Homo sapiens: one gene and its partners. The protein of the gene in region 1 purifies or fractionates together with the protein of each later gene. This does not show direct contact. Each region holds a gene or a part of one and is shown in the gene's direction. Other genes may lie near its edges.

The links.
Region 2: the proteins of SERPINA12 (region 1) and ITGA2 purify together in Homo sapiens (affinity purification with mass spectrometry; 2 studies listed by BioGRID and IntAct, with this or other methods). This does not show direct contact.
Region 3: the proteins of SERPINA12 (region 1) and WDR75 purify together in Homo sapiens (co-immunoprecipitation; 3 studies listed by BioGRID and IntAct, with this or other methods). This does not show direct contact.
Region 4: the proteins of SERPINA12 (region 1) and PTPRG purify together in Homo sapiens (co-immunoprecipitation; 3 studies listed by BioGRID and IntAct, with this or other methods). This does not show direct contact.

The regions. Positions count from the first base shown.
Region 1 is NC_000014.9:94,499,470-94,506,469, reverse strand, and holds part of SERPINA12 (serpin A12 precursor), read left to right. Parts: intron 1-2,247; exon of another isoform or gene 2,248-2,437; intron 2,438-7,000. UniProt on the Homo sapiens protein: Adipokine that modulates insulin action by specifically inhibiting its target protease KLK7 in white adipose tissues.
Region 2 is NC_000005.10:52,984,539-52,992,372, forward strand, and holds the start of ITGA2 (integrin alpha-2 precursor), read left to right. Parts: upstream 1-4,813; 5' UTR 4,814-4,930; coding exon 4,931-4,994; intron 4,995-5,551; exon of another isoform or gene 5,552-5,748; intron 5,749-7,834. UniProt on the Homo sapiens protein: Integrin alpha-2/beta-1 is a receptor for laminin, collagen, collagen C-propeptides, fibronectin and E-cadherin. It recognizes the proline-hydroxylated sequence G-F-P-G-E-R in collagen.
Region 3 is NC_000002.12:189,458,435-189,465,494, forward strand, and holds part of WDR75 (WD repeat-containing protein 75), read left to right. Parts: intron 1-318; coding exon 319-438; intron 439-901; coding exon 902-990; intron 991-4,049; coding exon 4,050-4,208; intron 4,209-5,259; coding exon 5,260-5,319; intron 5,320-5,411; coding exon 5,412-5,527; intron 5,528-6,644; coding exon 6,645-6,820; intron 6,821-7,060. UniProt on the Homo sapiens protein: Ribosome biogenesis factor. Part of the small subunit (SSU) processome, first precursor of the small eukaryotic ribosomal subunit.
Region 4 is NC_000003.12:62,292,571-62,298,109, forward strand, and holds the end of PTPRG (receptor-type tyrosine-protein phosphatase gamma isoform 1 precursor), read left to right. Parts: intron 1-43; exon of another isoform or gene 44-147; intron 148-590; coding exon 591-737; 3' UTR 738-5,039; downstream 5,040-5,539.

The DNA.
Region 1 (7,000 bases):
TATGACACAGTCCAGAGCACCCCAGCTAGGATCAGGTGCCTCTTGTGTGTTCTCACCTCCCAGAGTTACCTCTACCTTGGCCCTTACCTAGTGTGACTTGTATCTCTGTGTTCTGTGTTCCCATCAGACCAGAGCTCTTGGAGTTAGGGTGTGGCATGGTCACTAACATGTTTCTTCCATCTGGGAGATCCAAAGAGTGAGGATGAGGACCAGAAATTCCTAGCTCCCCTCTCACCCCTACACATGGCAATAATGTAAAAAATATTCAGGCCACCCCTCAGCCTCCGACCAGTGCCTTAGGCCCATTAACTTATAACAATAATCTTCCCAGGCTGGACAATCTCCTTCATCCTTCTAGCCCCTGATGAACACCAGGCACAAATCCATGGGACCTGAATCTTAACTACAGGCAGTCGGGGCAGCCTCAAGTCTAGGCTGAGGTCCCTTAATGGGCACGTGAAGGGGGCTGCTCCCTCCCATGCCTATATCCTTCACTGCTCTCCACAGACGTGCACCTCCTCCGGGGCTCTTTTCCCCAGGCAGGACAGGCAACTCCCAACCCAGGTGTAGCGCCTGGCTGGCCGGCAGCCCACCTGTGGCTACCCTCTGCCCATGGCCTACTGGCCTCTGGCACTGTCTGAACTCAGGCATCCCCAGTGCTGCCCGTGTCGCTCAGTGGGCATCCCTACCCTGGCCTCTTCCTGCATGTCTCCCGTGGAAATTTACCCTGGAGCAGAGAGTGTCTGGGGCAGGCAGGGAGGCATGGCCCTCAGACTCACACAGGCCTCACCCTGTCATTAGAGGGCAGGTTTTCCCTCCCAAACCAGATGTACAGACCTGGATTCTGGGTCAGTGTCCACCTCACTGGCTCTGATCTTCCACCACTATAGCCTCTACAGTCACAATAGGACCACCTGTACTCCTTGGTCTCAGCCTGTCCTTCTGTCTCCTCTGCAACCCCTTGGTGACCAGAGCCGGCCAGTGTGAAGTCTCTCATCTCGCCGTTCACATGGTGTCTTTGACCCATGCATCCCAGCAGGCAGGCCTTGCTGCCTGGGCGAGGGAAGGTGGTGGCTCAGGGGCATCTTCAGGGGTGGTTTCTGATCTGGGCAGCTCTGGAACCCATATCCCCATGTCCTTGTTCATCTAGGCCCTGAGTGCATAGAGTCTGTGGCTGAACCAGGCCTGGGAATGAACTAGTGTCTCCTCTTTCCAAGAAGGTTTGTCTGGGTCACCTGCTCTGAATAGCTCTGGGAATGAGAGTCATGTCTTTGCTAAAAGCAGCAACCCAAAGGAAGGGAAAACAACACCCATGGCTCTTCCGAGGCCTCCGAGGTGTTTCGATCAGATACGACCTACTGTGAAACACCACTCAATGGGGAAGAAATATGTGAATGTTTTTTCTGCTCACTGGAGCTCATTAGATTAAGCAGAATTGAAGATAGGCATGTTGAGCTTATTGCTCTTCCATCCCAGCATCAGTGGGTTTGGAATGTTCCCAGACATCTTCAATGCTTCTCTCTCCAAGTGGTAAAACTGAAGATAAGAATTTTATTTTATTTTATTTTAAGCCTTTGAAAAATTAATCCTAAAGTAATATCTGTTTTTTAAAGACAATTTGGAAAATATAGAAAAGTAAGGGGGAGGCAGAGACAACAGAGTTCAGCCATAGTCTCATCACCCCAGCACAAGAGAACCCAACCATAGTCTCACCACTCCAGCACAACAAATGTGCAATAGGAAAACAATTTGTAATTTCCATGATCATGAACTTTGAGGTGAATTTTTAATTCCTGTTCTTCCTAACGGAATCTACGCATTTAGTTGTCTATTTGTCTGTCCTCGAACTTTTTCCCCAAAGGACTCCATGTGAGCTAAGCTAATTTGGAACACATGAAAAAATAGCAAAAGAAAATGGTGAGGGATACATGGGAATGACCCCAAGAAGCCCAGTTATCAACCTGTTCCCATGGGCAGCAATGATGATACTTGGGTTGAATATTCAGTATTAGGACTCTAGGCTCATCTACTTGTAGACTATTCTGGCTTCCATACCCAGAGAGCAACTGGGAAATAGAGTCGTTGCAAAAGGTGTCTAGTGGACTTCATTAGGGAAGCCACAGCCCAGTGGGTGTGGCCGGTACGATATCATGCCGCTGCCTCCACAGGGAGAGCTCCCAGGGAGGTGGTGTGGCCATTGCTTCCAAAGCCTCCATCACCTGCCCATACACGCCAGCTCATTGTATTGGCCTTACTCTTCCAAGAGGCCATGGAAGTATAAATAATAAAGCAAGAAAGGCAGATGCATTTGGCTGGCTCAGTGGACTTCTGAATGTACTGTGAGTATGAGACCTTCCCTTCCAAAAGATCCGGTGCTTCTTGTCTATTCCACACGAAGCTTGCTTCAGATCGAGGGAGGATGTAGCACTGTCCACAGGTGGGTGTATGAAAGGAAAATTCTAGAGGATCTCCAAAATCCAGGTAAACCCCTCTTGAAGAATTTGTTGAACATCTTTGGCAGAGTGTTATGGATGTCTACTGCCCAGTGCTTTTCTAGAGAGAGAAGCTTCATGAATGTGGGGATGGGAGAAGTCTTGGGACATAAGTGGTGCCTCCAATTTGGGTCCACCCCTGCTGCATGATGCTGGCCACAGTCATCCTTGTGTGTGAGCTGTTTGTGAATCTTTATCTCTCTCTGAGGATAGAGGCTGGATCCATCAACTCACTGGTTCATGGAGAAAGTGAGGCGAAGCAGCCTGTTCAATGCATTTCTGCAGAATTGCCTTCACCACTGATGCACACTGCAACCACAATCTCTTCCTTTGTCCACTCTGGGCCTCATTTCCCTCTTTATGGCACAGATAGTCCTGAAGTCAATGATCTCTCAGCCTTTCCAACCCACATACCCCTCCTCCTAGAATGCAGTCACGGAAGGGGAGGAGGACCAGGTCAGGCAAACAGCTGGAAGGTTCTTGAGGGTTTGGAGAAGGCTGTGGGGCTTGTTGGGCTGAGAGTCAGTCTGCAGCATCAATATGGACCATTTCCTGGGCATTGCTCTAGTGCCCCAGTGCCTGACACAGAGTGAGGACTCAAACATATTTCTTAAGGAATGAAGGCAGAAATCTACAGGGCAAATTAACAAGTGGAATGGGGACATGTTCTCCACTCTTTGTTTTCCAGAAAGGAGGAGAAAGTATATTGCTGTGGTCATCAGAGTTTGTTTATGGGGCTTCTCTTACTTCTAACAGGGGAGAGAAGATATGTCTTACCACCACTTAGTTCTAAATGTGCTTTTAAAAATAATAATTTAATTTCTGATGTATATAGAGTGATTTCTTCTTAAAGCAATATCAGTCCTTTAAAACAGGTGAGCCACAGAGCAGGCCTGAAGTGGCTCTTCAAGTGCAGGGCTCTTGTGAGGGTCTTCTGTTGGGAGGCCAAGGCACACCTTTAGCAAGGATTCCTCAGATTTCTCAGCCCAAAGAAGGGCACCGGGTTTACCCAAGTGCTGCACATTCCAAGAGGCGCTCAGAAAAGGTTCTGAGGAAAGGTGGCATCTCAGAGGGCCTGGGGTTCCTGGGGCAGGAAGGGGTTTCTGGGGCAGGAAGGGGTGTCTGGTGCATGCAGCCAAGTGTAGGAAGCATCTCCCCGATGAGGAGGCAACACACTGGTTGCCTGAAGCTCGCTCTGTTGGTTCTCAAGACATGGGAACTTGTCCAAAGCATTCTAAACTTTTTGGTCTCATTGGCTTGAGGAAGGATATTACATCAACTCTTTCTAGCCAGTCAGTTTCATCCCAGGGAAGAGAGGTAGGGTGGTCAACTATCAGGAGAGGAGTGACCTGCCTGGGGGCAGGGGGAGTTCTCTCTAAAGAAAACTGTGGTTCCAAACCACTGTGCACTGAGTAGACCTTCTGTAGCCTGTGTGTGTTATCCCTGTTTAGGTATCATTTCTTCAAACTGTGGTGATAACGGGGGAAGCGCTTTGTAAAATTAGAAATATTATTATTGTTGAGTCTGCTGTCACAGCTCACTGTTGCTTCAGTTGGCTGATCGGGACGGTGTGGGAGGTGGAAGCAGTGCCCTCCCACAGGGAAACCCCTTCTCGTGTAGACTTAAGCCGCCTATGCTACCTGTGCGGACGCTTCCCATCTGGTTTGGATCTGTCTTTAGGATGAATGACTTCCGGGTCAGTGAGGCACTATTTTATCTAGTCATAAGAGGAGGAAATTATTTTTCCAAATTAATAGGGAACATGGGAGCAGGATGATCAGAGAATTGAAATACTGACTATAGCTTCATGTGTCCCATGTGTACCCCATGGGGTTCGGTTTCTATCTTGTTCTTTTTTTTTTCTTGGTTTTGTTTTAGTTTTATCTCTTTATTTATTTTGAGTCACAGCCAAACACACACAGATACACACACACACACACACACACACACACATTCCAAACTAAAAGCCAACAAACAATTGCTCAACTCAGGAGAGCAACCTATCAATTGATTGGGAAATAACCAGTTGCTCAGCTATTTTAATTGATGGAATTAAAAAATTAGCCTACTCAGGCATCTAACCCAACTGACAAATTTGGGTCAGTTTAAAGCCCGTGATGACAGATGGAAAGGCCCGGAATGGGGCTGGTGTTGGCTGTTTGGGGGAGAAAGGCCAGATGTTCGCACTCAGGGAGCCAGGGCAGGAGGCCCGGTGGAGACTGCTGTGACACAGGCATGCTGAGGTGGGAGGGTGCTGAGACCCCACCAGGCCAGGGTGTGGGCTGTGTCCCTTGGGGCGGGGGTGGGGGGGCGGGGAGGTGGTGGCAGTGCCACCTGATCAGCAGTATCTCATGGGGGAAGAAACCAAATTATCACCACCTCCCCCTCATTTAATAGATGAAGATACTGAAAGCCTGAAGGGTGAAGAGACTTGCATCAAAACACCTAACAAACACACAAGTTGGGGAGGACCGCTATCCAGACCTGGAATTCCATAATCCGTTCTTGTTTCTGAAACTTGACAATGTTTAGGGATCAGTGACTGAACATCACTGTAAAGCTGTGCGTGCCACAGAGTGTTCCCAGGATGGTGCTTTCTGTGGGTTCCTTCCCTGCTCCAGCCCTGCCCTGCCCGGCCTCCTCCAAGGCTCCTGCCAGGCTGCTGGTTTCACCGCTGCTGAGAATGTTTTCTCAGCTCAAGGGACATGTCTTAACTTCTCCACTCCTAGGCACTGGGAACTTGCGCCCACTCTGAATAGCAGAAGCTTCTATTTTTAATCCAGGCAGCCTTTGTAAACAGTGCAGCCCCCTAAACCCTGAAATGGACTCCTTCCTATTTTCTTTTGTTTATCTGAAGCATTCTTGGGAATTTTACTAATTTCTCTTCTACAATCTGTTTTCAGCAGCCCATAGAGCCCTTGTTCATCACCAGCTGTTATTAAGTTTTACCAAGAAGTGGTTTTTGGGGGTAGAAGGTGCTTAGAGAGCACCCAGGTTCAGAGAGGGAAGTGCTTTCTGGAATGTCACACAGCTACGAAGGCATGAGAGCAGAGCACAGAACTCCTGCCTACTTAGTAGTCCTGGCGTTTTAAAAAATATGTATCTGCCCGTATTTGTGAGGATGTTTTTGGCTTCAAGGAAGTGACCATGTAACTCAACGTCACTGGGGGTCCAGAGGCAAGGTGGGCTCTGGGTTCAGCTTTTTCCATGGACCCAGCCCCGGTTTCTCTTAAGAGCCCTTGGATGCATCCTCTTTGTGCTATGGCTTTGTCTTAGAGTCACTTCCCTCACGGGGCAAAGTTGCTGTTAGTCCCTGCCTGCCGTGCCTTCCTGCCCAGGACATCCCAGGAAAGAGACAGGCCAGCACCCCAACATTCCAACAAACAGTCTTGAAATCCTCCCTCATTGCACCCCTTAAGCCACATGCCCCTCCCTAAACAAGGATCAGGGCAGAAATTCCCGCCTGCACTGATTGGATTAGGTCTGGCTCCTGAACCAACCAGTAGCAGGAGAGTTGAGATGCCCCTGCACCAATCAGGCCCTCCCTTGGAGCTGGGAGGGGCTTGTGTCCCTGAGGCACATGGGCTGCCTGAGAGAAGAGTATATTATTGAAAAGAAGAAAAAGAAAGAGAAGATGAGGAGAAGAGGATAAGAGGAGAAGAAGGCGAGGAGGGGAAGAGGAGAAGAAAGAAGAAGAGGATCTATTGGGAAGCTGGGAGAATGGATGCTGAAGGAGCAATGAGCAGTATTCACTAGAATTTTCCAATACTATACTACAAACTCCTTGAAGACCTTTGTTGTGATCAAGGCTCTATCCACAGTGCTTGGCGTAGAAGGATTTGGACATGAAGAACCTGGGAACTGGGGACACTCCTAGGTACAGGCCCTGCCTGGTGTTCATTCATCTGCTTATTCAGCCAACCAGAAAGAGCCAGGCATGGGAGTTTAGCTGTGCAGACCCCGTTGGTGGCTGACCCAGTTCCCTTTTGCTGGTGCTGCTGTGAGGGTTGCCTGCTGACAGCTCACAACTGCCCTCCCCTCTCCAGAAAATTGTCCTTGGCTGATAAGACCTAACTGACCCAGTTATGCACCATGACCTGCATCCAGAGGACAGATCACAGCCACCAACTGACCGATTCTATCCAAAAGGCCAGCCTGGAGAGCCCTCCCACTGTGGACCAGGCCAAGGCTAGATGTCACCTTGGCTCCTTCCCTTTTCCATCCCACTTCCCTCACTTCCCTACAGGGAAGACAACTGCCTCAATACATAACATGCACCTAAATCCCCATCTCAGGTTCTGCTTCTAGGGAACCCAATCTAAGACAACCATGAAAAACCTTTACTGTGGACAGGCTGACTATTACCCACAGATTACAGACATGTAAGATATAAATTACAGGAAGAAAGCAGACTAAATGATATAACAGATGACCAAGCAAAGAAATCTGCCTTCGTTTTACATATAAATGGGTGTGACCATCACTGACAGTAGTATGTCCAACCAGAG
Region 2 (7,834 bases), on another chromosome or scaffold:
TTAAACGTAGTCTAGTACAAGGACTAGAAACCTGCTCAAATTAGCTTCAGAGAAAAAGAGAAACTATTATTAGGTTGGTCCAAAAATAATTGTGGGTTTTGCCACTGAAAGTAATAGAATGATACACAGATATTTCATGGATGTAAACCCAGGAAGAACAGTCAGATCTCACACAATGGCAAACAAAATTAAAAGACCTAGAACAATCTCTCTCCGTGTCTCTCTCTTTCTCTGTCTGTCTGTCTCATGCATGCACACCTCAGTTTCTTGGTCTCTCATATCTGTCTCTGTTTTTGATAAATGGTGCAGATTGGCTTTTTCTACACTCATTGAAGAAAATGAATGGGCTGGGCATAATTCCAACACTTTGGGAAGGTGGGGCAGGAGGATTGCTTGAGGCCAAGAGTTCCAGACCAGCCTTGGCAACACAGTGAGACCCCATCTCTATAAAAAGAAAAATTAAAAAATTAGACAGGTGTGGTGGTGCATGCCTGCCCAGCTACTCGGGAGGCTGAGGTAGCAGGATCACTTGAGCCCAGGAGTTTGAGGCTGAAACGAACTATGAATACCACTGCACTCTAGCCTAGGCAGCACAAAGCCCCATCTCAAAAAAAAAAAAAAAAAAAAAAAGGCGGGGGGGAAAAAAGAAAGAAAATGGTTGTACAAAGTGAACACAAATTTCCATTTCATGTGATCAGCAAAGATTCTAGAATCTGTATACCATGAATGTAAATCCCTAGGAGATTGATCGAGCTTGGTCAGGTGTTTGGCTTAGCGACAAGGAGGCAGGATTATGTGACTCAGTGACTTCTAGAAGGGGATCATGGAAGACTCTGAGAAAGCCCTATTGGCAGAGCTGGCAAATAGCTTTGCATGTCTGCCACAAGCATGAAAACAAGTAAGGCCAGTCAACCGTAGTTGTGCTAGAATCGAAATATGAATATGATTCATCAGTGTATTGATGGGTCCAGGAAGCTAGGAAATCTAGAATTATTTTATTTGTTTTGTTTGTGTTTAAGTTAGGAGTGTCTCTTTTATTTTGGCCATTATGCACCCCAGCCAGTGCTTAGAGACTTGTGTGTGAGTCAAGCTCAATGGATTCTAAGCTTTACTCACTCATCCCATGGATTCACTGAGTAACATTTGAGAAGCCACTGGTTACTTCACTTCAAAATTACTAGGACTTACCTAGAAGTTCATATTTACCACCCTTTTCAGGTCTAGGGAGAAGAATGTGGAATTGTTAGGAAACTCATTTCAATGTATTATAATAACTATTAATATTTATTAGAAATTTATTTACTAGGTATAGGACTAGACTCTTATAACAAAAATGTATAAGATTTCAGAGACCCAGCATTTAAATGAGAAGGTAGAATATACACATATAACTCAATAATATATTACTCTGTAATACATACAAAAGAAAGTTTATTTGGGGGAAAAAACAAAAACAAAAAAAAAAAGCTAGAGGAAACCAGAGCCAAGAAAGAAGAATGATTAGTTCTCAGTGAAGAAAATGGGAAAGGCTGGGCTAATAATATAGAATTTGACTGGAGCCTTGAAGTAGAATTTGAAACAATGGAAGAAAAAAAGAAAGCTATTCTAAGTAGAAAAATAAGGAATTGACAATGAAGAATGGGAAAGGCAGGCCAGTGAACTCGTGAATTTGGCCTAAACATAGTGTGCAAGAGGGAAAGATAGCCACGGAGCCCACAGAGGTGAGTTGGAGCCAAATCGTGACCTTAAACCCTAGGGTACTTTGAATGTCCTGAAGACATCTAATGATTTTCAGCAGATCAGTCCTGCATTTTTGGATAACTGTGACAACAGGTATAAAAGATGAACTGGAACAGGAGAGAAGGAAGCACAGAGAGATTATATGGGAGTTTGTCACCATGGTGAAAGATCAAAAGGGTTTGAACCAAAGAGAGATTAGCAGTGGAACAGAAAATAGGAGATGGCACAGAAAACCCTAGTAGGGTGTAAAGACAGAATTGGAATGGGATGTTAGCAGGGGGCTGGTGGTGCACCTGGGGAAGAAAGCAGAGGTTTCTGGTTTGGGTGATTGTCTATATGAAAACGGGATAAACAAAGGAGGGCAGGGCATGACGATACAACAGATCAGAAGGAAACACTGGGGAAACTTATCTGAGCCGTGTTCCCCAACAAAACTCTGTCTTGAGCTAAGGAAAAGAAAAAGAGGGGAAGGCCTCACTTCACCCCTGAGTGCTTTTTGGAGTAGGGTCTCTGGGTCTCTCAAGATCCTTTCAAGTGGCCAGTGAAGTCAAAACTATTTTCATAACAATACTGAGACGTTACTGCGTTTTTCACTGTGTTGACATTTGCCCTCATGGTGCAAGAACAAGGATGGGGACTGGTGGTCATTGTATTCTTCATCACTGGGCACTCACAGGAAGAGAAAGGGAGAGGGACACGGAGAGGCCAGCAGATCAATGAATTTTAATGCCACGGAATAGGAAAAACCATTGATATGGTTTCAGATTCCACATTGCAACTTTAAGAAACTACCACTTGTTGAGTTTTGGTGTAGTATCAGGGGATTATCCAGAATTATCTCCTGTTTTTCTAAGTCCATATCTGTGTAACACCAGATTAATCAATATAATTTCACCAAAACTACATGCCGTAACAGATTGGATGCAGAAGCAGATCTGAGAATCCAAATGTCTGTTTTTAAGCCAGATATTTAAAATATTAGCAAAAATGTAAAGCAATGCCACTCTTCTCCCGGATTCTTTCATTTGGAGAAATATAGTTATTTTTCATAAAATGTACATTATTTATGTTCACACATAATAGGATTTTTGTTAAAGGACTTACTGAGTAAAGGGCTCTTGAGACCAAAGAGTTTGAGAAGCCCCAGCTTAACCTTCCATATTTCCTGCTCTGAATGTGGTGTCCCTCACAACTGCAACTAGGCAGGAGAGCACCCTGGAAGGGGTTCTCAAACTACTTTGTCTCAGGAACACTTTATCCTCTTAAAATTAATGTGAGGCAGGAGTTTGTTCTTTGTTTCTAAAAGTTTTGCCTGGCTCTGGAAAATCGTAGCTCCTGACTTATTCTGCACTTCATGACAGTGTAATGTTAATTTGTCCAGTTCTGAGAACAAAAACCAAGAAGGATGCATGTTATTTCCCCCCACCCCCAGAGATAAAACACAAATTCCTGTCTCACATTAAAGGAAGTGTCCTGCCTCCCAAACACAGGTCTGTTCCAAACACTTACTCACATTTCAGTGAGTCAGAAGGAAACAGACAGATATTCATCTCCCTGAAACCTGGCTGACTTCCTTCAAAAAGTCTGTAAGGAGCGTCAAAATCGTGTCACCGGTTAGTGAGCAGCCACCTAAGAGCTCTCAGGTGATAGCCGGAGTTTTAGTAAGCAGGTGAGTACCCCAGACAATTCAGAAAAAAATGCCTTCAGGTGTTTGTCAAGGTGAGTAAGTGCAGCCAGTAAGTGACTGATAAGAAAACAGGAAAGAGCCTGGGACTATATAATTTGGGTTCAAAGGGTATTAGTCATAAGCCATCAGCAGCAACATCTGATGCATACCAATTTAATACTTTAACAATGTGACACATCAGCCCTATCTATAGTAAAGAGAAGAGCTTGATTTTTATGAATTATTAAGTCCTTCCCACCTTGAGCCACTTTGCTTCCTAGAGGCAGTATCTCAGGCATCCCATTCAGCTCATAGTAGCATTCCATGAAGATCTGGAATGATGACAATAATGATGATTATTAGACTCATAACTCCTTAAGCTTGATTTATGAAAACAGTTCGTTCCTTCACAAAAGTAGTCACTGGAAGAATTCTGGTTTCAGCAATGTGCTGGAAATTTGTGGCCAAACTTTTGGATAAAACATAAGATTCAGACAAGAAAAATTAATATCCTATTTCTTAGGTTTTTAACTAAAAATCTCGGATATAGAATGTTCTCTTTCCAGATGTGAGACTGAAATAATGGAAGAAAATGGTCACAGTCTATGTCATGGTGTAATGTAGACAGGGAGAGTCACAAGTGCATGTATGGGCTCTCAGCCTTTTCTCTGGCCTTGAAGTTAATCTCCTAAACTCAGTCATTAAATCAGCTCTTAATTATCTCGGAGGAGAGGAAGTAATGATGATTTCTCTCTCTCTGTCTCTCTGTCACACACACACACACACACACAGCTCTTGCAGCAGGTATTGCTTAAATATCACCTTGGATAATCATAACTTGTGAGCAGATCTTCTTTCCTGATGAGTTAGTTTCTAACCTGGTCATTCTGCGCTTATTTTTGTCCCTTTCTCCACCCACTTAGGAAAAACAGAGAAAGGGACGCACCGCGCAGCCCCTAGGCACTGTGGTTTAGGGCTAGTGCCCTCGGCACCCGCTGCCAGGAGCCGGGCGCTGCCAAGGGCTGCGGAGGGGCCACGTTCTCCCGGGGACTGGGGCATCTCCTGCGTGCTGGCGACAGGCTGCGGGGGCGGAGTGGTGCCAGGGCGGGCGCTCGCCCGTCGGATATGCCCACCCGTCCCGTCCAGGGCAGGAAAGCCTGCCAGGGCGCCATCCCCATCCCCACCGCCTCCAGGCTGCCGGGGCTGGGCCGCTGTACGGGAGCCAAGGTGCGGTGCCCCGCGTGTGGACGAGCCGAGGTGCAGCCCGCGGGGCCGCAGGGCCGGGGTGGGGCGGGGCGCGGCCGGAGCAGATCCGGTGTTTGCGGAATCAGGAGGGGCGGGCTGGGGCGGGCCCTCGGCGCTGCAGGAGCTGCCCAGAAACTTTTCCCTGCTCTCACCGGGCGGGGGAGAGAAGCCCTCTGGACAGCTTCTAGAGTGTGCAGGTTCTCGTATCCCTCGGCCAAGGGTATCCTCTGCAAACCTCTGCAAACCCAGCGCAACTACGGTCCCCCGGTCAGACCCAGGATGGGGCCAGAACGGACAGGGGCCGCGCCGCTGCCGCTGCTGCTGGTGTTAGCGCTCAGTCAAGGTAAGCGGGGATTTCGCTCTGCATCGGCTGCAGGAGGGACCCGCGCGGCTTCCTGGGGCTCGCTGGAGGGATTGGGCGGAACTAGGGAGCGAGCTCCGTGTGTTCCCTCGGATTCCACGTGGACTCGGGCTCCCAGCCACCAGGACCTGCTTGGAAAGAGATACTTCTTCGTTCCCTTCCTGCTATCCCAGGCCTTGCGTCCCCATTAGGCGCGTCTCGCCCTGTCTGTTAAGCACCCTCCAAAGTCATCTCAGTGAGTGCTTTGTTTTAGGTACACACACGCACACACACACACACACACACAGACAGACACGCACGCACTCAAGCATGGACAGTGTGGGGATCCGCGGGTGTCCTGGAGACCGCGAGTCCTGCAGCCCAACTTCCCCTGGCTCAGACAGGTGCCGCGCCTGCCAGAGACCAGGGAAATCCGGAATCCATTGCTGATGGCGGCCTGCAGCTCCCCAGCGCGGTGCTTGCTGGCTTTGCAGAAGCCTGCGAGCCCCAAAATGCTTATTTTTCAACCCAAGGATGTGAATAATGCCTCTATTTCTTACTTGAGGACGAAGCGCTGTGTTTCTTCCCGGGGGGACTTGGAATAAACCAAGCGCCACTTAAATACTTGGCAGAGGGGAATTCTTCCTTCCCTTCTGCCTTCCTCTTATTGTTGTAACATTGTCTATTCGACGAATGTAAACTTAGGCTAGGAAAAGTTCTTTTCACTTCTGGATCCTAGATGCCGCAATGAGAGAATAAGCCGGAGCAGCCGCTCTAACTGTAGTGCTGTGGCAGTGGGGCCCGCCCACCTCCTGAGTTCTTTTACACTAAGAGGAGGAAATAAGGCTGGGGTGGAGAGCTTTTGTGGGACCATCGCCTGAGTACTTTTTCCCTGACCATTAGGCAGAGCTAGAGTGTGGTCAAATTTAAGAATTTTAGTTTATTTGGAGGGAGAAGGAGACACGTTTGTATAATGTAGTTTGAACAGCGATCAAAACAAAACAAAAAAGTTGTCTCTGATTTTAAAGTGTGTGTGTGGTTTTTTTTTTTTTTTTTTACAAAGAAGATAAATATTTCCTAAGCTGTCCTCCTTTGAGACTGACATTCAGCCACTTGCTATTCTTTATTGTGGAGGAATGAATCCTAGTCCACGTCAACCTGGTGGCATTTTCTCCAGGTCAGAGATAAGAGAGAAATAGCACCACTGTCCCCAGCCCGAGCAGAGAATGGGCATCTTAGGTTTTCTGTCTCACCTGTATTGGGTGCTTCAGATACTTTCTCCGGGAACCAGATGAGTTGTTTTGAGGGGCCACCAACCCTAATCTACGGATTTCAGGTAAAGTTGTACTTGACATTGAAAATGAGTCTCTGGAATACAACTAGAGCTAATAGAAATATAAACCCAAGCTTTTCATCTCTCTGTAATTACCCAGTATTAAAATAAGCTGTGGAAACATAACATCATTTTCTTATCTTTGAAATGTTGAGGCTTGTTATGTAAAGAGCAGTGAGAAATTCTTTAATGGAATGTAACGCTGCAAGGCATGAAGTCAGGAACAGAGACTTAACCTGGAGTTAATAAGGACACCTCAGGGCAAGCAAGCAGAGATGATCGAAAATAACATCTGCAAAAGTTTTGTGCATTTATTCCCTCCTCCTACTCCAGCCATTTGTATACTCAAGGAACAGGTTTTCTCTTAATTTAAGATCCTCATAAGAAAGCTCTCTCATTTGTGATATCACTTGAGGTTCCTGGAGAAGCAGCATCGTTTTTTGGTACCATGAGTATCCCAGGTTAACATGAATAAGTGAAATCTCTAGCTCAGTAGTATCTAAAATTTTGTATGGCATTACCCTATCTGTATAAAATTTCTCATTCACTATCATTACACACACACACACACATAACTGTTATAAAATTATAGTATGTACAATTGCATCATATCACATACAAAAATTCAAATTTAAAAGCTATGTATGTGACAGAGCTTCATTATGATGATCTTAAATTAAGAGAAAACCTGTTCCTTGAGTATACAATATGCCGTGTTATGTATATACAATTGTATATACATATATATACCTGTTAATATGTATAAAACACATGTGTGTTTAGACATCTTGTATCATCTCTAGCATACATGCAAACCACTTTAAAAACATATCACCTTCAAATCTTATTTTAACACTTACATTCAAATTTGCTTTCCAGAAACCTTTTCACAGGTGCTTAAGAAGAAAATGTACTCATAGTTTAGTCCTATATTTATCACCTTTCAGTGCTCATTTCTAAGTGCTTAATACCATGAAAATGGTAAATGGGCAGTCTGAGGATGAAAAAGAGAGAACATAAGAGGCCTAGATAATCTATAAACTAAATATAGGCCATTAGCAGAAGGCAAATGTAATTTTGAAATGAAGGCCATCACGTATTTTCTCCAGTATGTTCACAGGTCAAGGATAGTCCTTCCACCCAGGTTCTAGACCACATCTTTTCTTACTATCCCTGAAACCCTGCCCCAGCACTCATCCCTCTTCAGTGCACGTCTTCAAATTCTCTCCCTAATGTAACTTCCCCTCAGTCTGTAAATATTCTAATTTTTCTTATTGTAAAAAAAATATTTCTTTTGATATTTAATTTCCTCCTGAAACATCCTGTACTTCTGGCTTCTGTTCTCTTCCTGTTTTTCTCCTCCTTTCCTCGCTGCTCTCCCGTCATCTCCTTCACAGGCTCTTTCCTTGTTGGTGTTTGCAGAGTTTCATCCTGAATCCTCCTCTTCATTCTGCAGATTGTCTCTGGGCCCATTCCCTGCACAGGTCCCTATCTCCAGCCAGCCTCCCCT
Region 3 (7,060 bases), on another chromosome or scaffold:
ATTTGAACAAGCTTTGACCAGGCCAAAAAAAAATCACTAAAATCTTTACTTAAATGTCAGTGGCTTCCATAGATAAATTATTATGGTAGAATATTAGTTACATGAAGTTCATGTTGTATATTGATATATGTTTACAAAATAGAATGCTTGATTCTTGATCAAAATTTTCTTTTTAAAAAAAATCCTGCAGTTATATTTATTGAATTCTGAGCTCTACAATTTTGGTTGCTATTGCTGGGAACTCTCTTTTACTTAACTACATCACCACTTATCAAGAGACTTTAATAATTAAGGGAATTTGTTTTTTTTTTCTCCTAGGTTTACTTTATCATCATCAAGAAATAAGAAGCATGCTAAAAACAATTTTACATGTGTAGCATGTCACCCAACGGAAGACTGCATCGCATCTGGTCACATGGATGGCAAAATTCGTCTTTGGTCAGTTTGCTCATGAAGAGCATGGCGATCATTTATGTACTATTTTACGTTAGTCCTGTAGAACAGGGCTATCTCTGGGTCCCAAGAAACAGCCTCCCTTTCCTTTTTTGTGTGCTTTTCATTTCATACTTACTGTTTTAGAATTTCTAGCCTTGGACTTATAAAGTGAGTGAAACATTTTTTGTTGCCTGTAATCATTTTATTGAAGAAAACTTTTTGTTTGCCTTTCTCCAAAAAGGAAAGACTGACAATAGTGAATATCTAGGAGGGTACCACAGATGGCATATTATTTATAGAAGTCAGTCACTCTGGTTAGAAATAGAAAATGTGCACATTAAGACCAGAAGCCTTTATATTATGATTTAGTATGTTTGGTATATATTATGTTTATTGTATTTGGCATGCCATTGTTTTCCTAACTTAAACCTATGGTCAAAATAAGAGTTTTATCTTTCTCCAATAGGAGGAATTTTTATGATGATAAGAAATATACGTACACATGTTTACATTGGCACCATGATATGGTTATGGATTTGGCTTTTTCAGTGACAGGTAAGTGCGGGTTTAATTATTAAAATGAACTTTTGAAGATATGATTCAAGTGTTTTAATTCACTGTATTTTTAGTTTGGAAGATTTAAAACTGCATGAGCCAAATGAATTCCAAACACTTGTGTGTTACCCCTGTATTTTGGGCTTTGCTCAGCACAATATGCTTTAGGTTTTGAAGCCCTTCAAAGTTCTAAAGTGTACATTTGTGATAAAAATCTCTGTTGTTTACATAAATAACCTATTTAAATTATATGACTTTTTGAAGGTATATCTGTCTACATAACTAAGTGTGTGTGGTCCATAACTGTAGCTTATCAGGTGCAAGTAACTATTCTAACACTACATCCATTATCTGATTTAATCATTGGCCGTAGGAAATGAGTGGCATTATACTCATTTTACAGATAAAGGAAGTAGGATTTGGAGTTGATAATTAACTTGCCTAACATGACATGGTGGGTAGGTGGGTTTGGACCTGGTTCTGATTTTAGAGCTCTTGTTTTTAACTGTTACATGGCCTTATTTGACATTAGCTATTTTAAATTAATCTCCATCATTGTTTCATTTAAGCTGCATGACTTCTGTCACAGCTTTGTGTAGTGTAGCTATAGCGAGTAAAAATACCTTTAAAGTAAAGTGGTCTTCAACAGAAATACAGGGAAGTACATCTTGTCTTTGTTTACTTTTAGCATCCTCACACCCATGTGGTGAGAGTTATGTCAGTTTATTTGACTGGTTCTTTAAGAAAGTTACTACATACTAGAGAAGATTGTGTGCCTAAAAAATGAGAAGCCAGGAAAAGTGATTTTTCTTTCTGCAGGTCTTCCTGGAGACTGACAGGACAAGTCTTAGATGGTACCATATGCTGTGGTATCCTTAGAGTCTTACTTGGGTGTAATGCCCGGAAGCCCCAGGAAATAGGAGACACCTTCAACCCGATTATGGTTTGGGGAGTAATGACTAGTGTATGGAGACAATGTAGGCTGCTCATTTGTATTCTCTACCCTCCTTCCCACTCCACACCCTCAAAATACTAGTGAGTGCTTGGTATCCATATGTATGTGTCTGTATATGTTCCAGGCAGGGGTTTTTTTTTTTTTAGACAAGGTCTCACTTTGTTACCCAAGCTGGAGTGCAGTGGCACCATCTTGGCTCACTGCAACCTCGACTTCCTGGGCTCAAATGGTCCTCCCACCTCAGCCCCCTAAGTAGCTGGGACTACAGGCACGCACCACCACGCCCAGCTAATTATTTGTATTTTTTGTAGAGATGGGGTTTCACCGTGTTGCCAGGCTGGTCTCAAACTCCTGACCTCAGGCGATCCCCCCAGCCTCCACCTCCCAAAGTGCTGGGATTACAGGCGTGAGCTACCGTGCCCGGCCATTATTTGAATTCTTGATATTATATTTCAAGTAGCATGAATATTTTTAAATGAGAAATAATGGTTACAGTACATAGTTGTCAGTGAAATGTCCTTACTGACTGTGTGGGTATGAGTTATTAGAAAAAGAAAAAATAGCTGCGTAAATATAAAAGAAATACAGATTTTAGTTGTTTTTGAGAACTTCATAACTTGAGGCATATATGAACTATATGCACAATGTATCATATATGTGTATATATCAGATTAAACTTCTTAATTTTGTTTGTGTACATCACAACTACATACCTTTAGTCTTCTGTTTAGCTAGATTTTATCAGCTTGCAGCTTTAGAAAATTTGATAAAAACCCCATTATAAACCAGTGATCTTTAAAACCAGTTGTTTTAGATTCATGAAAGAATGAAAAATGGTTATTTGATGGAATACTTTTGAGAAAACAGTCTGAAACAGTGTCCTATTTATCCATTTAGTCATTAAGGTAGTCTTTTGCAGGCTTTTGTTAGTTTTCAAACCATTAGATTTAATTGGCCACATTTGACTGGTGGCTACCGTGTTGACAATACAGCTGTTGCTATATTTGAGGAGAATTGATGTTTTTATAGTATTGAGTATTTTAATTTGTAATCATAATAAATACTTTTCCACTTTTTAGGTCTTTATATCCATGAGTTAGGATTTTTTTTCTGTGGTTCTCATATATATTTTTCACTAGACATTTGATGGTCTTTTGATAGTATGTTTTACTCTATATTCTAATTGACTTGCTAGTATTTAAAAATAAAATTGATTGTTATATATTTCTCTTATAATCAGCTAAATTTACTTATTCCATAAGTTTATCTATAAACTATTTTGGCTATGCCTTGGTGTAGTCATGCTGTCTGTGAACATGGAAGTGATTATTTCCTTCTTTCCAATCCTTAAGCCTTTCTGGTTTCATTTCAGTGCACTAGACATCCAGTTAACGTTGAATCAAAATGGTAATAATATTCTTAATCACAAAGGGAAAGTTTTCAATAGTTTAACTTTTAGTGTGGTGTTTGCTATAGATGTTATCCAGGTACTCTTGATGAGATTCAAAGGGTCCCATCCATTCCTGAGTTTCTGAGAGGTATTATCATGAATACGTATAGAATTCTGTCATTTGCTTTTTCTGCATCTATTCAAATAATCATGGTGTTTTCCTTTTGTTCTGTAAGTGGGGTTACATTAATTTATTTTTCAGCTGTTAAGGTAATCTCATTCTTGCAGTAAACTGCGATGACATGATACCCTTTAATATATCATTGGTATAGTATTTTGCTTAAGAATTTTCATCTGTCGTGAAATCGGCTTTTTTTTATATATATATAATATTTTTGGTATAGTATTTAAATGTTTAGAAAAATTTATCAGTGAAGCTATCTTGGCCTAAAGGATATTTGTTTGTCCAGCTTTTCTAGTTGTCAACAGAGGAGTTGGTCAGCAACAAACTAATCAGATATCACTGGAAAAAAAATTCCTGAACCAGTGATCATTTGTCTTCAGAGTATATTAAAAGATACGAAGACACTTTTTGTAGCTTTAAATGAGTTTATTTCTCTAGTACGGTAGCAAAAACAAAAGTGTTAATTATATTTTTCTTTCTCTTTTTTCCTCAAAACACCATCCTTTTAATTTCCTTGAATGGATATGAAGGCACCAGTCTGCTGAGTGGCGGTCGTGAATCTGTACTTGTAGAGTGGCGCGATGCAACAGAGAAGAATAAGGAGTTTCTCCCGCGTTTAGGAGCTACTATTGAACATATCTCAGTCTCGCCTGCAGGAGATTTATTCTGCACTTCTCACTCTGATAATAGTAAGTCTAAATTTTTTATTATGAGGAAATATATAAACACCATAAATTAGCTAGCATCTGTAGGGAACAGAGAATAAAGAGACCTAAAACTAAGAGTAGCGTATGAGATTTAATGAGCCTTCTTTTCCTTGCATTACTCCTCTCTTTTCCACCCCTCTCTACCCCTAGGCACCACCAGAATTCAACATTTTTGAGAATTATTTTTATAAAATGGAAGGCTAAGTGTATTTGGTTATTGATGTGCCACTTACATTTTCAAAGTCTTTTAGTGTGGGATGACATGAGGAAATAAAGGGAAGGTTTGGAAGTGGACATTGGTGCTTTCATAAACCTTCCGTTTTCAAAAGAATACTGCAAGATTCTCTTTTGATACAGCTGTTACCTGGGGGCAAGAGTCCTGTAGATTTGATAGAAATAGAGGCAGTCTTATATTTCTCCAAAACTTTGTTCATCCAGTGACTACTCAGCCTAGACTAGGATATCTTTGTAAATCCACTTCCTTTTCTTTCAAAAAAGAACATAACTGTGAGCAGTCCATTTAGTGGCATGAAAAAGTTAAACTATTTTTATTAGATATACTCTATAGATTTTGCATTAACACTTAAAATGTGTTCATAGGCACAACTGATAAAAACTTAAAGACTCCAACAGAAAAGCCCCTATCCCCACCCCTAGATTTTCCACTAACTCACAAAATGTATTCCTGATTTTCTAGTAGTACTCTGAGTTCATTGAACTTACTGGGTTGTTTTGTATTCTGGTATATTTCAGAATATAAACTCAGGTGACTCCTTCACCTTGAAGCTCTAACCCAGGGGTGTCCAATCTTTTGGCTTCCCTGAGCCACATTGGAAAAAGAATTGTCTTGGGCCAGACATAAAATATACTAACACTAATGATAGCTGATGAGCTAAAAATAATAATAATAATAATGTTTTCAGAAAGTTTATGAATTTGTGTTAGGCTGCATAAAAAGCCACCCTGAGCCACAGGTTGGACAAGCTTTCTCTAACCTATTGATATTTAAATACCTATTTTTTTCTACCCACAGAGATAATAATTATTCACCGAAACCTTGAAGCATCCGCAGTAATTCAAGGCCTAGTGAAAGGTATTGCAGAACTCAGTGGATTTGGAATCATGAACATTTTAAAGAGTGCATATTTCTCTTATTTCACCTGTTATTTGTCACCACTTCTGCAGATAGGAGTATCTTCACTGGTTTGATGATTGATCCAAGAACTAAAGCTTTGGTTTTGAATGGAAAACCTGGCCACCTGCAGTTTTATTCTCTCCAGAGTGATAAACAGTTATACAATGTAAGATTTTGATCATTAGCCTTGAAATTAATGAAAGCTCTTTACAGTACCACTGGAGTCAAGCAATTTGTTTAGTAGCTTTTAAAACAAGATCCTGTGCATATGTTTACTTGAACATAGTATTATCCGTGGTTACTTAGTTCAGTTGTTCAGAGCATAATTCCATTGAGGCCACAGTTGCAGGTTACATGTAAGCCAGTTGGCACTCCTGTACGTGCTGTCTCTGTCTTTTGTTTCAGAATGCCCTCCTATTAGCTATCCCATACATCTGTGCTTTTGAGTCACAAGGATAAAGAAACAAAAATAGGTAGATTGACAGTACAAATTTGTATCTGCTTCGTGGTGAAACACTATCATATTCACATATTGAAGATAAAATTTTCAGTGTAGATTAAAGAGGAACACTTCTTCCAATCCTGATAAGTCCAATCCAGATGTCCCACTTTTCTTGTTCCCCACAGTACTCTTTACAGATCTCTGTCATAGCAACTGTGACACTAGCTCTTTCTCACCGTGGCCTTTAGACCCCTCAAAAAAAAGGAAGCATATTAATCATTTTATGCTTATCTCAAGTATAATGCCTGTAAATTGTAGGCATTTAGTACACTTAATAGTAGGCATTTTATTTACTTAGTATAGGCAAGGAAATGGGATTTTTTTTAAAACAACCATAAATAAATGCTGGCCTACTTACATTGGCTATCTTTTTTCATTTCTTAAAGATTGTAGGTTTATTTCTGTTCTGCTTGTTTCTGTTGACAGAGAATCTAGCCTTGAGATGATGTAAAGCTGTTTGTTCTTAGAAACAAAAGAAAAGCACTACTATAAATTAACGGTTCTGTTGTATCATATAGTGGGTGTTAGTAATCGCTAATATTCAAGGTCATTGAAGAATAATTACCACCAAATTGATACTATTATAATGTGTTCCCTTTTTTAATGGCAATTTTGGTGTCCATAGTAACAATTAGTTCATTTTTGCCTTTATTTAAAAATCTATTACTATACAGTACAGAAGTTGTCTTGGATGTAGTTAATTATCATTTCTTGAATGCTGTAACATTTGTGTATTTATGTTAATAAACATTTTGGTTTTTTGGTTTTTTTTACTCATCAGTTAGATATTATACAGCAAGAATATATTAATGATTATGGTCTGATCCAAATTGAACTAACAAAGGCTGCATTTGGCTGCTTTGGTAACTGGCTTGCAACAGTGGAACAGCGGCAAGAAAAGGAAACTGAGCTTGAATTGCAAATGAAACTGTGGATGTATAATAAGAAAACACAAGGGTAATACTATCTGTGTAGCCACTTAATTTCAAAGTATAAAATATTTCACTTCCCATTTTACAGTTTCAATTGTCTTTAAGATGTTTCATCTTGACAAGGTTTAGATTTAGAGATATGGGAGAGGTTTTATTCTAATAAAACCTTTAAGCTTTCTGCTCTGAGAAGACATTGATGTCCTCTAAGTCATAATGTCATCTCATAATGAATAAAGAAACATGGAAAAGTGACACCTCCTCAAGG
Region 4 (5,539 bases), on another chromosome or scaffold:
TATGTGTAAAACCTGTACTACATCAGTTGAAACTCAGACTCACAGTTTAGAGCAGTAGTTCTCAATTGGGGGTGATTTTGCCCCCCAGGGGACATTTGGCCATGTCTGGAGACTTTTTTGCTTGTCACAACTGCAGATGGATGGCATCTAGAGGATACAAGCCAGAGATGCTGCTAAGCAAACTACACAGCACAAGACAGCCCTCAACACCATAGAATTATGTGGCCCAAAATGTCAGTAGTGCTCAGGTTGAGAAGCCCTGCTTTAGAGGATAGTATTCTCTGGTTATCTTCATTAACCAGATATTAACCAGATATTGGTTATCTTCATTAACCAATAATGATTGTTCATTAACAATCAGCACTGAGAATTGGTTCCAAGCTAACAGAGATCAAAAGGACATGAAGAAGGTATAGGTCTTGACTATAATAAATTCAAATGATTTTTTTTTTAGTTTTTTTAGATAACATTTATGCTATTGCTGTTTCTCTAGTGTGTTTTTCACAATTACCATTTTAATTGGTATTTCCACCTTATGTGAAATCACTAAACTGTTCTTTGGCTCAAACTGTCTTCCTCTTGTTTTTCAGGAACAATACCAGTTCATCTATAAAGCAATGCTTAGCTTGGTCAGCACTAAAGAAAATGGAAATGGTCCCATGACAGTAGACAAAAATGGTGCTGTTCTTATTGCAGATGAATCAGACCCTGCTGAGAGCATGGAGTCCCTAGTGTGACTGGAATCCTGAAAGGGCACTTAATTTGTAAACTTCTGAAGACTGAGAACTTTTTTGAGGCCTTTTTTGCCAGACTCTAGGTTATACAATAACCCAGTTACTTTTTTACACTGATAAAAGTTTTGATATTTATTTTTTGCCATTTTATGTCTTAATGGTATCCTACTGAGCATTTGCACCTCTGTTCATTTCACACAGTGAAACGCAATTTTACCTAGTTTGCACTATATGATCAGTGTTACTGCCTATAATCTTATACAACAGCAAACCCTGATGTGACATTCCATGACGACATACATGCTACTTTTTTTTAGTTCAATACAGTGAAGGTCTTTGTTATGACAGTGAATATTGCTTTTATTATTATTATTGCTGAAGTGGTTGCATTCTACTAGCAGGCAATGCTGTACTTTTCTTCAGTCCTCCTCTCCTTTTTATTTTAGGCACTGTTCAATACTGTATGCCTTCTGTATTTTAATGGAGTGGATAGCATTGTTTTCTTTTACAGACTAGCAGGCTACTGGGACCTAAAAAGGTCTGTTAATGTCATGGCCTTGAAACAGTTCCATTTATGCTGGTTAAGAGATCCCTTAAGAAGTTAGAAGGCTTAAGAACTGCTTCATGTGAACATCCCTTATTAGTTACAAAGTTATATTCACAGTTTTTTAAAAATGTGTCAAAATAAAGGATAACTCTGTATTACAGCTTTCACAGTAGCTATGTGGACAATGTGTTATTTCCATTTTGACTCTCTAAAATAGCTACATCCTAAAATCAGGGCTATCTTTAACAATAGCAAGATAGCAATATTATATACAACTCAGTTATGAGACCCTTTAGTTATTCTCCATTAATGCTTCTTAGTTTGTAATACCATACCTCACAGTAGGTAGAAGAATGAAAACTTCTGCAGGTGTGTAATTTTGAAACTAGTCCTCTAAAAATTCCCTATTACTCCTATAGCAATCTAATAAAAACTACCTACATAGTTACTGTTTTCTTTCCTTCTTTGCCAAATGTTTTATAATAAATCTCTTAATTACATACATTTTTCTACTTAAGATTAAATTGGAAATACTGTCTTAGCAAAAGTCTTGGGACTATCTAAACTCCCACACATAGATAAATCTGATTTGGAGAGAGAAATTTAAAATATTTAATTAAAGGTGATACCCACATTTTCAAGTTTTTAAAAGAGGGAGATGGCTTTGTATGCTTTTGTGTAGTTTAGAACAGATACACATTAGTAAAAGATACCAATAATCATTAGAGCTCAAGGAAGTTATTAGGTGCAGCCTCTGGAGCCATACTCACGCTGCAGTGCATAATGGGAAAATTAGGAGCATTAATAAGAAATTTCAGTAGTGTTTGTAAGGAAAATAAGCTACTTACTGAGATCTGTTTCTTCTATTGCATGTTTGCTTTTGAGGGACAGCTTCTGTCAAAAGTGAAATCATCACCAGAACTGGGCCTGTTAGGAAGAATAGGGTTTTATTTACTTTTTATGTCAATTAACTTCAACAAAAAGGCCACGCTGGCTGCTGTCATGCCATCTGGGTATGCATTAAACATTAATGATGATCAGCACTGAGGTTCTATTTATCTTGATTTGGCTTTCATAAAGTTTGTCAGAATGGTGCTGGAGGACCAGAAGTGCTAAGGAGAAAGAAGCTATGGGCCAAGTTAAAGAATTTGAATGCAAAGGCCAGGTCAATGGAGTTTTCATAAACTACATAATTTACCAGGGTTTATCTCATCTTCTCAATACATAGATTTAACAACATGGAATACTCTGCTTTTCAAGAGCTGCGTAAGCTAGTCCTGAGATAAGATGTTCAAGAGAGCATGCTAAGTTGCATGTGCTAGATGAGAGACACCTTTACAGCCCCTCCGCTCCAACCAGAGGTGACACAGGAAGCTCTGTAAAGTTCAAGTAAAGCTTGAACACAGGAACACTACAACTGCCAGATGCTGAGGAGAATCAGGAAAGCAATGAGCTAGACTCTTTTTTTAGTCAATTAAGTGGGTTGTTTTAGATGTATAGAGTATTGATATGAGTTAACACTTTTTAGTAGATGGCAAAGTGGGCTTGATGTTCAAAAGTAATGTTCGAGTTAGGGTTCATGGTCCCTTTCTCAGTAATTTTTTCTTAATAAAAGTAAACACTGGTTCAAAGACAAATAGCAAGTATTCCCTCCTGTGCTATTTATAGAGGGCTCAATTCGTAGAAAGGCATACCCTCCAATGCAATTCTGTGGCTGTCCCTTACAGTGGTTTCAGAATCACGAAAAAACAGCTAGTAAATAGGATAGAAACAATAAAAGAAAGAGTTTAGAAGTTCCCTGTGAGCAATCTGTGTGTCTTCAGCGAGCTTGAACCAAAGTCTTCATATCCTGACCCACTGAATTATAAGCAATTGCTACTTGCCCATCTTGCCAAAGTAGTCCAAACACACTTCAATGAGGACAGTTATATTTAGCAGGTCCTCACCCCTGCAAGAGACAGCATATCCTCACTATTATTATTCATGTGTTATTGGCAAAAACATAGCTTGCATCTTTCCAGAGGCAGAGTTTCAAAGACAGGGTTTTCTTTGAGACATAAGCACATTGCTTAAGTACATAACAAGGTTATTAACACTTGCACTCAGGGGAAAGGAAATAGCTATTGCAAATTAATGTGTGCAACTTAATAAAATAAGCTGTTTGTGTATATGAATTTAGCTCTAGGTAAGCAAAATGCACACATCATATAAAAATAAATTGCAATGATCAGACCAAGTGGCTGTGCTGGACATCAAAGAAAAGACATGCTGTTGCCATCAGGAGAACTCTTTCTTATATGCGATAGCCAAGATATCTTCTTTAATATGAAAAAAGTTAATTTCTGAATTTCAAAAAGAGTAAGATTAGCTAATTGGTCTTCCTAATTTTTATGCCTTTAGAGTTTTTAGTCTATTCAAGTAGAAGAGTCCAGCGAGGCCAAAGAAGGGTTACGGTGTTCAAGTTCTGGTTGTTGGAGTTTTTAGCCCAGAGTGACATACTGAAATCAGTAAATAATTATTTTATAATGACACAGCACAACTGCCTTGTTATGAATTTTTCTTAAATGCATATATACTGTATTTAAAATTAAAATATAGATACCAATTTACCAAAGATACATATTACTAATTCTAAGCAAAACTAAAAAAAAAACCCAACTCATCATAATTTAAGAATCAAAATGTAGTTTGTCTTAAGAATTTAGTGGTTATACTGGAAATGCATTTTCAACTCCTATGTTCTAAAGTTTATGTTCAAATGGTGCCAGTGAATTTTTATATGAAGGGAAAATGCCTGCTTTTTTTTTTTTTTTAACAGATGTAATTTCACTTAACCCTTTGCGCTTTCCCTTAGTTGTCATTTAACATACAATACTGGCTTTACTTATCTCTAGAAAGAAGAAGGCATGCTACAAATAGGAAGGAATTGTAATAATGATATTTGGCCTCTACTTTGTCTTAGCTGTTAAACTGTTTTTAGTATTTTTGTTAAATATTTGCAAAGGGAAGCATTTTCTACAGAGGATAATTAATTTCAAGAAAAATATCTTGAGTTTTAAGAAATAAACATCTCCAGAAAAGGAGAAAGTCGATTTTATAAAATGTCGCAACTCTCCAACATTTGGGGTAGTGACTCCTTTTTTGTTAGGACATTTGAAACTAGCAAGCAGCCATTGTTTCTAAAGAATTCTGGCTTCACATTGACTCATGTTTCTTTCACTCCATTTTGAAATAGCTAAAAATCATTAAAACTGTAAATATTTTGTTGCTTGGGTAAGCATCTTCTGGGAACTTTGTATCTATGGTATATAATCATAGAATTTTATATTTTCATATAAAGCTAATTTTTTTCTAGTTTCAACTCCGTCATAGTTTTTTTTCCTTTTTGTGGTGGATATGTGAATTCAACTTTCTGTGTATTGAAGTAGCAAAAACCATCTTTACATTCCAAAAGAATCCAACATGTGTTATTTCTTTGAGGCAGTGATTGTGAAAGTTGGGTTTTCTTTTTAATTCCATTGACCATTTGTGCAATAGGAATTAGACATAATTAGTCACTGAAAACATTCGTCACATTGACCCATTTGGAAAAAGTGTGCTTTTTTTTTTTTTTTAAATTTGTTCAGGGGGAGGGGTTTTGTAACCTGAAATTTTTCCCTTTTTCTTCTGTTTAAACTATATCAAATCATTCTATTATAGTGTTATTTAATATGTAAATTGTATTGCTATACATAAAATAAAGTATGGTTTTTGATGTATTCAGTAGTGTTGAGCATTTCTATGAAAATGTCTATATCCAATAAAATAGGTTACTAGTCTCCCTTAACAGATCACATTAATACCCACCAACCCTCTGGTCTAAGTTTTCATGGTAGTAAAATGAACATTGGTAGTCGTCTTTACACAGGCAGCAAACCAAAAAGAATGGTCTTTGCTGGGTTGATTTATCAACGTTCTTTCTCCTTTAAAGAGTAAACAATGACAGTTTTACCTGCTCATCTAAGGAATCAAACTTTATTCAGTTTATGACTCTGCTGCTAAGTTGTGAACAGAATTACTATTTTCTCTAGTGTATCAACTAGGTTTGTAACAACTCTCTTAATATTTACGAGGTAGGATGAAGGATATATCCTGGCAAGAGTTCTGGAGAATCTATATGTGTAAGATCAGTACAATTGCTTCTACTTAACAAGAACTTTTGACATTTCCAAACAGGTATACAAGTCCCAAACTTGGCAGCTTTGGCCTACCATTCTGT